4 separate regions of the Homo sapiens genome follow, and regions 1, 3 and 4 are each linked to region 2. Evidence: fine-mapped expression QTL. A gene starts in region 2. Each other region holds a variant in brackets. All regions are shown on one strand. Distances are between the middles of the regions. Region 1 has its middle 5.9 kb from the start of SSTR3. Region 2 holds the start of C1QTNF6 (C1q and TNF related 6). Region 3 has its middle 11 kb from the start of RAC2. Region 4 holds the start of SSTR3 (somatostatin receptor 3).

What was found.
Region 1: its variant is fine-mapped to the expression of C1QTNF6 in blood mononuclear cells (TOPMed, PIP 0.96).
Region 3: its variant is fine-mapped to the expression of C1QTNF6 in whole blood (INTERVAL, PIP above 0.99).
Region 4: its variant is fine-mapped to the expression of C1QTNF6 in whole blood (INTERVAL, PIP 0.98).

Annotation. Positions count from the first base shown.
Region 1 is chr22:37,217,024-37,219,707 of GRCh38, forward strand. It overlaps a transcript of SSTR3 not described here. Among named protein-coding and RNA genes, the nearest start is that of SSTR3, 5.9 kb to the left of the region's middle. RefSeq lists enhancers at 1,634-1,733, 1,764-1,933, 2,084-2,303. The variant G/A (reference allele first, on the strand shown) is at 1,257.
Region 2 is chr22:37,187,106-37,189,789 of GRCh38, forward strand. C1QTNF6 (C1q and TNF related 6) reads right to left here and starts at 1,142. Exons shown (of 3, transcript NM_031910.4): 1 at 1,058-1,142. The coding sequence starts at 1,108. RefSeq lists enhancers at 246-881, 882-1,515, 1,516-2,151, 2,152-2,684.
Region 3 is chr22:37,253,793-37,256,476 of GRCh38, forward strand. No RefSeq gene overlaps it. Among named protein-coding and RNA genes, the nearest start is that of RAC2, 11 kb to the left of the region's middle. RefSeq lists an enhancer at 1-16. The variant T/C (reference allele first, on the strand shown) is at 1,077.
Region 4 is chr22:37,211,848-37,214,531 of GRCh38, forward strand. It overlaps SSTR3 (somatostatin receptor 3), which reads right to left and starts at 630. Exons shown (of 2, transcript NM_001051.5): 1 at 1-630. RefSeq lists an enhancer at 1-448. The variant A/G (reference allele first, on the strand shown) is at 1,407.

The DNA.
Region 1 (2,684 bases), 30 kb after region 2:
CTCCTGGGCTCAAGTGATCCACCTGCCTCAGCCTCCCAAAGTGCTGGGATTACAGGCGTGAGCCACCGCGCCTGGCCTCCTCTCTCATTTTGATGTAGCATAGCTCCCAGTAACTTTCAGAGAAGGTGTGCATGTTTCAAAATAGTGAATTCCCCTCTCACACATGTTGATAGGTAGGCTAGGTATAGAATTTGAGATTGAGAATGACTCTGACTCAGCTGATGGAAGGCGTCTGTCGGTGTCTCCAGCTTCCAGCACAATTCTTAATCCCAATCCATTGTGTAACTTAAGCTAATTTTTTTATTATTATTATTCTGGAATCTTCTAGGATCTTTGCTTTATCCTTAAATTTCTGAAAATTTTATAACAAGATTTGATTCTTTTTTCATTTGTCTTCGGGGGCACCAAGTAGCCTTTTAATCTGAAGATTTGTGTTCTTCAGTTCTGAGACACATTTTTCTGTTATTTCCTTCTGTAACTCCTATTATATTTGAATATTGGGTCTCCTGGATGAAATCTTTATTCTTCTTGTTGCTCATCTTTATAATTTTGTTCTACTTCCTGGGAGGTTTAAAAAAATCTGTTTTTCTCTTCCAGTCCCTCTTTTTTTAAATCAACCTATTTTTCATTTCCAAGAGCTCTCTCCTGTTTTTTATTTTATTTTTTTGTTTGTTTGTTTGTGTTTTTTGAGACAGACAGTCTCGCTCTCTCACTCTGTCACCCAGGCTGGAGTGCAGTGGCACAATCTCAGCTCATTGCAACCTCCGCCTCCTGGGTTCAAGTGATTCTTCTGCCTCAGCCTCCTGAGTAGCTGGGATTACAGGCACATGCCACCACACCCAGCTAATTTTTGTAATTTTAGTAGAGACAGGGTTTCACCATGTTGGTCAGGCTAGTCTCAAACTCCTGGCCTCAAGCAATCCATCCACCTCGGCCTCCCAAATTGCTGGGATTACAGGAATGAGCTACTGAGCCCAACCAGCTCTCTCCTGATTTCTGCCTGCTCTTTGCTATGGCATTCTGTACTCATTTGTGGATATATGTTTCCTTATCTCTTCAAGGATGGCAATGATGGTTTTGTCAAAATTTTCTTCTGCTCACTGCATCATCTTTATTGCTTACTGATATTCCTTTTCTTCTACTTATTTGATTGGGTCTCTTTCATTTATCATTTGGGGCAATGCTATCATTAGAGCCTTCTTCAACCAGTCATCCTGTGTTAGCCACTCCTGTTTCAGAATGAGGCATTAAGCCCG[G/A]GCATGGTGGCTCACACCTGTAATCCCAGCACTTTGGGAAGCTAAGGCAGGAGGATCACCTGGGGTGGGAGTTCGAGACCAGCCTGACCAACGTGGAGAAACCCCGTCTCTACTAAAAATACAAAATTAGCCTGGCGTGGTGGCGCATGCCTGTAATCCCAGCTACTCAGGAGGCTGAGGCAGGAGAATCGCTTGAACCCAGGAGGTGGAGGTTGTCATCCCAGTAGCCACAGCAAGTCACATGGCCAAGCCCAGCATCAGGGGAGAGGGGAAACACGCCCCTCCCATAGAGGGTGTGTCAATCTCTCTCTGGAGCATGGTAGGAGTGATGGGTAGGGAGGGTAGGAGTGGAGGAGTGATTATTTGCAAGGCATCATCGAATTGACATCTCCAAAAGCATTGTGGTGCCTCACCCCCACTCTGCCCTGTAGCGAATGTCTCTGGGTCCAGAGAACTCTGGCTGAATACTCCTTGCTGGGGTTAGGGAGGGGTGGGTGCCTGACCACGTAATGGAAAAGAGAAGACCTGGGGTGGTGCTGGGGGATCTCACTCCTCCTAAGCAGACTTCCACACAACCCCTGTTTTCAGCCTCCTGCCTCACCATCCATGATGTCTGGGTTCCCTAATTCTAAGCCTCCCCAGGGTTCTGCAAGACCAGGTGATTTGCATCTTTTCTGTCTCCAAAGCCCCTACTCCACCCCACCATGTAGCAGCAGGCACTTAGGTTTGCCTTCCTCAGCTCTGTTCAATCATTTACCACCCTCCATCTGCTCTTGCTGCTCATACATTGTGGTTTGGGGTTACAGGTGTCTCCTGGCTTCTTTGAAGGTGGGAGTTTGTGTTTCTGTTTCTTGTTCTCCTTCTTGTCGTGGCTGCTTTTCAGCGAGGAGGTGGGGGTGGAAACATCTCTACCCTAGCGCCTTGAGACGAGAGTCTCTTCCTTTCTGTATTGAATATATTTCTGTGATCTGTGGATCAAGCCACATGGTGGATGTCTATTTACACGTCTGTCTCTCCCACTGGCTTCTGAGCTGCTGGTGCGCAAGGGGCTGTGCCTCACCCCTCTCTGCACCTCCAGCTCCTGCCACAGCTTGGTGTGAAGCACATAGTTAATAGGTGGGAACTGTATTGAATTTTGGATTCTGCAAAAAACTGCTCATTTTACCTTCCTTGAGGTCCTCTCCGGAAGCCTTCTAGGGATATCCTGGATCTGCCTCTCCCTCTCCGGGACCTGTCCTGCTCTGCCTCCCATATCATGTGAGAGCTGGATGGAGTCAGATGTCCCCAAATGTCAGTATCTCTCTGGAGCGTGGTAGGAATGGTGGGTAGAGAGGAGAGGTCAGAGATCGGAGGAGCAGATAACGAAGAGTCTAGACTCCAAAAAGTCAAGGTTTCAGTATCAGTACCTGTGTCACAAACCACCCCAAA
Region 2 (2,684 bases):
CCCCCAGAGCTGGATGGTAGCAGCAGGAGAAGGGGGCTGGACAGGAAGTCTCCAGAGCCACCTCCCTCTTCCTGGAGGTGACTCTTCCCAAGCTTCTCTCTGCCCACCCTGGTTGGGTTCCTGGTTCTGCTCAATAAGGAGGTCAAATCCTCAGAGATCAACATCCTCCCTGTCTGAGACTGTCATCCTCAACTTTTACTTATAAATGACAAATCCCAGTGGTTTTGGAAATCCCAAAATTCCCTTCTTTTTCCCAGCCACAGATATGACCTCATGAGAAAAGCTGAGGTCTTAGAGTCAAATCTGAGACCCAGAATAGTTTGCAAGCTGTGTGACCTAGGGCTAGTGGCTGAACCTCTCTGGGCTTCCTGCTCCTTGATACTTACAAGGAAATGACACCACCCTTTCCCTCCCAGGTAATTTGGAAGGATTTCAATGCAGGAAAAGTGCCTGCCTTATAAAAGACTTAAAAAAAAAAAAAAAAGTGTGCTTTGACTTCTTCCCTGTGCCTGCATGGGATGGGAAGGAGAACTTCTCCCAGAGGACTGGCATGGTTTGGGAGCATTTCTGTTTCCTATTGGCCCCAGCGGATGGGAGTCAAAGGCTGTGAGACACAGAACCGTGGCCTGGGAGCAGGAATCAGGAAGCCGTTAACGAGGAATCATAACCACAGCCAGGATCACGAACTAGCTCTGGGGGTGGGTGCCAGGCAGGGACCAAGTGTGGGAACCAAGTCATAGGGAGGACTTTTGGGGTCCTTGCTGCTTCCACTGGGACCTCTTTGGGGAGGGAGCGGCAGGGCAACTTTTCTCGGTCCAGGCAGGCCGTGCAGAGCTGAGTTTGTGTGTGCCCGGGTAGGGGCGGGCACAAACCGGGAGCAGTGGAGCGCAGCCCTCAGCCAGAGGCAGGAGGAAATGTGGAGGGGAGAGCCTGGAGAGGCTGTCCCAGTCAGAGGGAGAGAGCAGGGCCCGAGATGCTTCCAGGAAGCAAGGAGGGAGGAGAGGAATTCCAGGCTCTGACCCCAGCCCCCAAGCTTGAGGAGCCTCTGGTCACTCACCCTGTGTCCTGTGGCCTCCCCAGGCGACTCACGGACCCTGAGCCACTGCATGGCCTCTGGCTCCTTGGCCCATGTCTGCAATACTAACTTGTTGCTGGCCCAGACCCCCAGGCCCAGCAGAGGAGGGAGAGAGGAGGGGATGGAGGGAGAGAGGGCGGAGGGAGGGCGGAGGGAGAGGGCAGAGCCGCTTCCCACTTCCCCTCCTCCCTGCTCCCTCCCTTTCAGCCTCTGGGTTCTGCGGAGATAAAGGGAGGCAGGGATTTCCTTTGCTTAACTCTTTGGTGATCCAGTGGGGTCTTGCTTGATTCAAAGGCCTAGAAAGTCAGAGCAGGCAGGAGTCTGAGGCCCCCTGATGATTGGGAAATGGACACAGGCATGGGGCACAGGAGCCCCTAGGTTGCTCAGGAAGGGGGAGGCAGCCCTGAGTCCACCCTGAGCTAAAGTGCTTAACTGCTCTGAGTCACAGAGGCAGGGTGGGTAGCAGAGAAGGTGCAGGTGTTGGCCCTCCAGGCACAGGCTAGAATCCTGGCCCTGCTACCACAGTCGCGTCGCCTCTCAGAGCCTAGGTGTTCCAGAACTGCAGTCCTCAGCCCCCTTTGTGCCAGGCACATGGGAGGGCTTAACCCATGTTTGTTGGGTGAATGACCAGGCTGACCTCCTCAGGTATCATGCAAGTGTTACCAGAGAGGGGTACTGATCAGACCCCAAGAGAGAATTCTTGGATCTTGCACCAGAAAGAATTTGGGGTAAGTCCACAGAGCAAAGTGAAAGCAAGTTTATTAGAGAAGCAAAGAAACAAAAGAATGGCTACTCCATAGGCAGAGCACCCCCAAGCACTGCTAGTTGGCTATTTTTATAGTTATTTCTTGATCCTATGCTAAACAGGGGTGGATTATTCATGAGTTTTCCAGGAAAGGGGTGGGAATTTCCTGAAACTGAGGCTTCCTCCCCCTTTTAGACAATATAGGGTAATTTCCGGACATTGCCATGGTATTTGTAGGCTGTCTTGGTGCTGGTAGAAGTGTGTTTTAGCAAGCTAACACATTTTAATTAACATACAATGAGCAATAAGGATGACCAGATGTCACTTTCATTGCAATCTTAGATTTGGCAGGTTTTGGCTGGTTTGTTTACCGCATACTGTTTCTCAGCAGGGTCTTGATGACCTGTATCTTGTGATACCAGTCCTGCCAACTTCCTATCCCTTCCTGTGACTACAAATGCCTGACCTCCTGGGAATGCAGCCTGGCAGGTCTTAGCCTCATTTTACCCAGCCCCTATTCAAGATGGAGTTGCCCTATTTTGAACACCTCTGACATATTTCCCTACTCTCTTTTACGAGGGAACGTTTAATCTTAAGGGTTGTAGAGGCATGAAGATCCATCTTCTGTAACTTCTTCAGGCTGAATAGAGGCGATGATATTCCTGCCTAACTATTAGAGTCTCTTGGGTTTGGTGCAGAGAGGAACTGAGTAAGAAAATGTTGGTGTGTTCAGAGTCATTTGTAACTCTGAGTCCTAACAAAAGGTGATATCTGGAAGATTAATGTGTTCAATTTAAGGAAGCACTGAGTAAGCTTATCTTGCATTCTTACACAAAGAGTATAGCAGCAATATATTCTACAACA
Region 3 (2,684 bases), 67 kb after region 2:
CTGGGATTACAGGCGCCCACCACCACGCCTGGCTAATTTTTTGTATTTTTAGTAGAGACAGGGTTTCACCGTGTTAGCCAGGATGGTCTCGATCTCCTGACCTCGTGATCTGCCCGCCTCGGCCTCCCAAAGTGCTGGGATTACAGGCGTGAGCCACCGCGCCCAGCCAGTTTGGATAATATTACATTATCTCTCCCTTAAATATTTTATAAAATTTATAAAGCCATCTGTATCTGGACCTGGTTTCAGAATTATGGGGGAGAGGGGGAAGAGGGGTAGATTTTAAACTACTAATTCAATTTCTTTAAGGGGTATAGGACTATTTGGAATTCCTTTTTTTTTTTTTTTTTTTTGAGACAGAGTCTTACTCTGTCACCTAGGCTGGAGTGCAGTGGTGTGATCTCAGCTCTCTGCCACCTCCACCTCCTGGGTTCCAGTGATTCTCATGCCTCAGCCTCGCAAGTAGCTGGGACTACAGGCAGGCACCACTAGGCCCGGCTAATTTTTTATTTTTAGTAGAGATGAGGTTTCACCATATTGGTCAAGATGGTCTCCTGAGCTCAAGCAATCTGCCCACCTTGACCTCCCAAAGTGCTGGGATTATAGGCATGAACCACCGCGCCCGGCCACTATTACTTCTTGAGTCATGCTTTAGATATTTTTCTGGAAAGTTGCCCATTTTGCTTGGGTTTTCAAATTCATTAGTGTAAAGCTATTCATAGTATTATTTTATATCTTTTGAATCTCTCCTCTCTAATTTCTGTTATCTCCCTTTTTTTATCCTATATTGATTATTTATGCCTTCAAACTTTGTTCTTAATCAATTGCTCCCCAGTTTCATTAATTTTACTCACCTTTTCAAAGAGCCAAATTTTGGTCTTGTTAATCCTTTCTACTATACATTTGTTTCCCATTTAATTAATTTCTATTCTTATCTTTATTGTTTCTTTTCTTTCTTTTGCTTTGTTCTGATGTTCTTACTTTACTTCTTAGTTTTGAATGCTTAGTTCATGAATTTTTAGTCTTATTTTGTTCCTAATACAAGTTCTTAAGGCAATACTACTTTAGCATTGCTT[T/C]TAATTGTGGTAAAATAGACATAACATAAAATTTACCACAACCCACAGTTTTAATATGTAATATTTTATTATGTTTTAGTTCTAAACATTTTTCAACTTTCATTACGATTTCCGTTCTGCTCAATGAGTCATTTGAAAGTGCATTGTTAATTTCCAAGAGTTGGGGAAAGAGGCTGTTATCTTGTTCTCTTACCTCGTGATACTGCAGACAAAGAATACAGACGGTGTCACACTGACTCCTTTTAATGTGTTGAGACTTGCTCTATGACCTACTGTGAGTGTTATTTTCATAAATGTGTATATATTCAGTGTTCCCTATGTGTCTAATAAATCAAAGGTGTTCATTGCATTGTTTAGATCTTTCGTATCATTACAAATAAATTTATATTTACCTTGCTTATATTTATCAGCTCTTGAGAAAAGTATGTTAAATCTCCCACTATGGTGGTGAATTTGTCAATTCTACTTGTAATTCTGTCACTTTTTATTTTTGTTTTTAAACCCTTAGGTTATGTCATCAAATGCATGCAACTTTAGAATTATCAGATCATGCTAAAATTTTTAATCTTATTGAAATAGCAGCCAACATTTTAAAAATCTTTACTATATTCCAAGATCTGACACAGACCTAGCACTCAGTAAAATGTGGTAGAAATAAGAAAAAGAAAGAAAGAGAGAGAGAGAATGAATGAAAAGAGAGAAGAAAGAAAAGAGGAAGAAGAAAGAAAGAAAGAAAGGGAGGGAGGGAAGGAAAGAAAGAAAGAAAAAGAGACAGAAAGAAAGAAGGAAGAAAGGAGGGAAGGAAGGATGAGAGAGAGAGAAAGAAAAAGAGAGAAAGAAAGAGAGAGAGAAAGAAAAAGAGAAAGAGAGAAGGAAGAAAGGAGGGAAGGAAGGATGAGAGAGAGAGAAAGAAAAGGGAGGGAGGGAAGGAAGGAAGGGAGGAAAGTAGAGTGAGAGAGAAAGAGAAAGAAAGAGAGAGAGAGAAAGACAGAAAGAAAAAAGAAAGAAAGAAAAGAGAGGAAGGGAGGGAAGGAAGAAAGGAGGGAGGGAGGGAGACAGAGAGAGAGAAAGAAAGAGAGAGAGAGAAAGAGAGAGAGAGAGAAAGAAAGAAAACATTGAGGGGATGCCTAGGGTGTCCCTGGCTGGCACCCTGGAGTCAGAGCTGGGGAACATTTGCGTCCAGGTCCACTCTGCCTTGGGGGTCATCCTGTGTTCAGTGTCACAAGCAAGAGAGGTGACAGGGAGGGCTGGCAGCTCTGGGCAGTCCCCAGGTGCTGGAGTTGAGTCCCCAGCCTGACAGGGTTTTCCCAGAGTGGCTCTGAGGTCAAATTCCGAGGAGCTGATGGAACTCCCACTGACTGCCCCCCACCCGATCCCCAAACCCAGCTCCCTGGGCTGACCGCCCTGGGCCACTCTTCAGTTCCAGTCACCTCCCTACCTCTAGGAGAGGATTTTCTCTTCGAAGATCCCCCATGAAGAATGCGGGTCCCTCTCTCCATCAGGGACTTTCCTGATGAGAAAACCAGCATTCTGCCCCCAGAGCCAGGCTCTGTGCCCCAGACACACCCAGATACCAAACAGAACCAAGCTCCCACTGCCCCACACCTC
Region 4 (2,684 bases), 25 kb after region 2:
CTCCTTGCCGCCAGGCTGGTTATCATTCTGCTGTCCCCTCTCCCTGCCCAGTCCCCAGGTGCCCCCAGGGCACTCCTAACTAGGGTCCCCACAAGGCACCCACTTCTAGACCGCTTGCGGGCTCAGGTTCCCTCCCAGGCCCTCGGCCACGGCTGTCCACAGAGCCTCTCCCATCTGGTCTCCGGCCCTGACTTCCCAACCAGAGCCTGGTACGTCACCCCCCATCTCCAGGACACATCCTGGGGGGGCAGGGGCAAGGATAGGGGGGAGAAGCTTCCCAGGGTGAGGAAGAGAAGAGGGGAGCAAGGGACACAGAAGCCAATAGAAATAGAGGGGAAAGGGGGTCGGGAGGAGGTGGAGAAAGAGAGAGAGAGAGAAAGAGGGAGGGGGAGAGAGAGAGAGGGAGAGGGAGAGGAGACCGTGAGTAGGAGGAAAGGCAGAATGAGGGGGAGTGATGAGAGATGCGTGACAGGGAGAAGACGAGAAGGAAAGAGAGGAGAGGAGACACGGGTGAGAGGGAGAGATGCAGAGAGAGGCAGGAGGGAGGAAGGAGAATGAGGGGGTGGCAGGGAGAGTGACAGAGAGGGACTGTGCCACAGATGGTGACATGGAGCCCGTGAAGGAGGGAGTAAGCAGGGAGGGGCTGAGGGCCGGAGAGCAGGTGTGGGGGGTGGGGGCGGGGTGCAGGTTAAGGGAGGAGGCCCGGAGAGGGAGCAGGAGGGGCGCAGACCCTGTTACCGGGGAGATTTCAGCCACCCACGCCCGCTGGCCTTGGCTCCTGCAGGGAGTTGGAGAGAAGAATGTGCTCAGTGCTCAGGGGAGCCGAGGCTGCCAGCCAGTAGCCAGAGCAGCTCGTGAGGCCACTGCGGCACAGGTCCCCCGGGGCAGCAGCTGTGTCCCAAGGCAAGGCTGGGTGTGGGGCTGGCCAGCCCGGGAGTCCACAGTCCAGCCCTGCAGTCGGGCACACCGGCCGCAGCACGGACCACTGGGGAGGCCGGGTGGGGGTCATTAGTCCTGGGATTGGTTACATCTGGAGAGCCCCAGGCAGGGTGAGGAGTGGAAGGACAGAACAGAGAACCAATATTTTAGGCTTTGAGGGCAAAATCATTGTGCAGTGAGAAAACAGATTTTTACTATTTTGTAACTGACAAAACTCAAAATAGAATAATAATAATTGAGGCCAGTATTTTGTAATGTAGGTCCACTCATGAGAAGAATAGAGTTCTTTTTACAGACATCACCTTTTGCTTAATTGGAGTTTAGAGTTAGTGTTTCATCAAACCGATTGCAAATGTTCATCCGTAAAAACCATTCTCAGCTCCTAGGCTGTACAAAAACAGGCAGTGGGTGGGATTTGCCCCGTGGGCCATATTTACTGATCTTTGGTCTAAGAGACTCTGCCGTAC[A/G]GTCCTGAGCACAGGCCCAGATGTCTTGGGATGCCGTGCCCCTGCCTGTGCTGATTCCTGCCTCAGCACAGGAGTGATAAGGAAAGGAACAGTCAGAGACGGAAGGGAAAAGGACACACGTCTTGGCTGAGCACCTACTATGTGCCAGGCTGTACCTAGGCTGCTTTCCAAACTGGGCCATTCCCTGGGACCAGGGCTGGACCTCCTTTGTCACTAGGTACCTGGCACTGCAGAGAACTGGAAGTTGAATGCATCCAGAGGTGCCACCATGCATGCGGCAGCACACAGTAGGACACACCCACTTCCAGCCGGAGCCGGCCTGGTCTCTTAACGCTGCCCGTCCCTTTGCCTTGTGCCCGGGACAAGGCCCTTGCTCCAGGTCTCAGCCTCCCATTGTCCTTGTCCGTACAAGTTCATGAGGTGTGGGTGGGCTCCTGGGAGCGTGTCCTCAGGGTCAAGGGTGGGTTTTCCATGGCACTGACCACCCACCCCTACCCACGGCTTCTCACTGCCCTCAGAATAAAGCTCTCTCGCCGCAGCCCACCTGGCACTGCATCCTTGATTCCTGCCGCCTGCGCGGGCCTCCTCCTCTGCTGATTTCACTCGCTCCTCTGTGCCCCAGGCGTACCCAGCCTCATGTATTCATTCACTTATTCCTGCAGGTTGGGGTATAGGGGCTGAAGACTGGACAGGGGAGTTTGAGCCCCAGCTCTACCCCTGCCGTGCACTGAACTTAAACTTCGGTTTTCTCCTTCAGTAGATTGTACACACCTGACTGCCTGGCCTGGGGGTTCTTGCGAAGGTTAAAGGAGTGAATGCTCATCAGTGTGCCCCCTGCCACACACCTCCCCAGCACCGAGCCTTACTGCTCCAGCCTGGAACCCGTCCACTGCTCTCCATCCACAGGCTCCCGTCTGAGCCAGGCCACTGAAGGGGTTCAGGACACGCCACCCCAGAATACACCACTCTGGCATATTGATTTCTCTGCACTAAAGGCACTTCAGAAACAGCAGGTGCAGAAAGGGGGCTCTGACCTCCCCTTTTCTTCCTGAAAGCAGGAGCTAAAACGCCTTGTGAAAGACGCCCTCCCTATGCCAGGAGGAGGAAAGACATTACCAGATAAGGAGAGTCGAGGCCAAAAGAAATCTGTATGAACAGATCTTTTAATCCTTATCTTCCTAGTTACACAATTGCCATTCTATGTTCAACCTGGTACAAAAGCCTTTATGCCTAGTCACTTCTTTGGGTCTTGGTCATTTGGGCGGGAGGCGGGGGGGC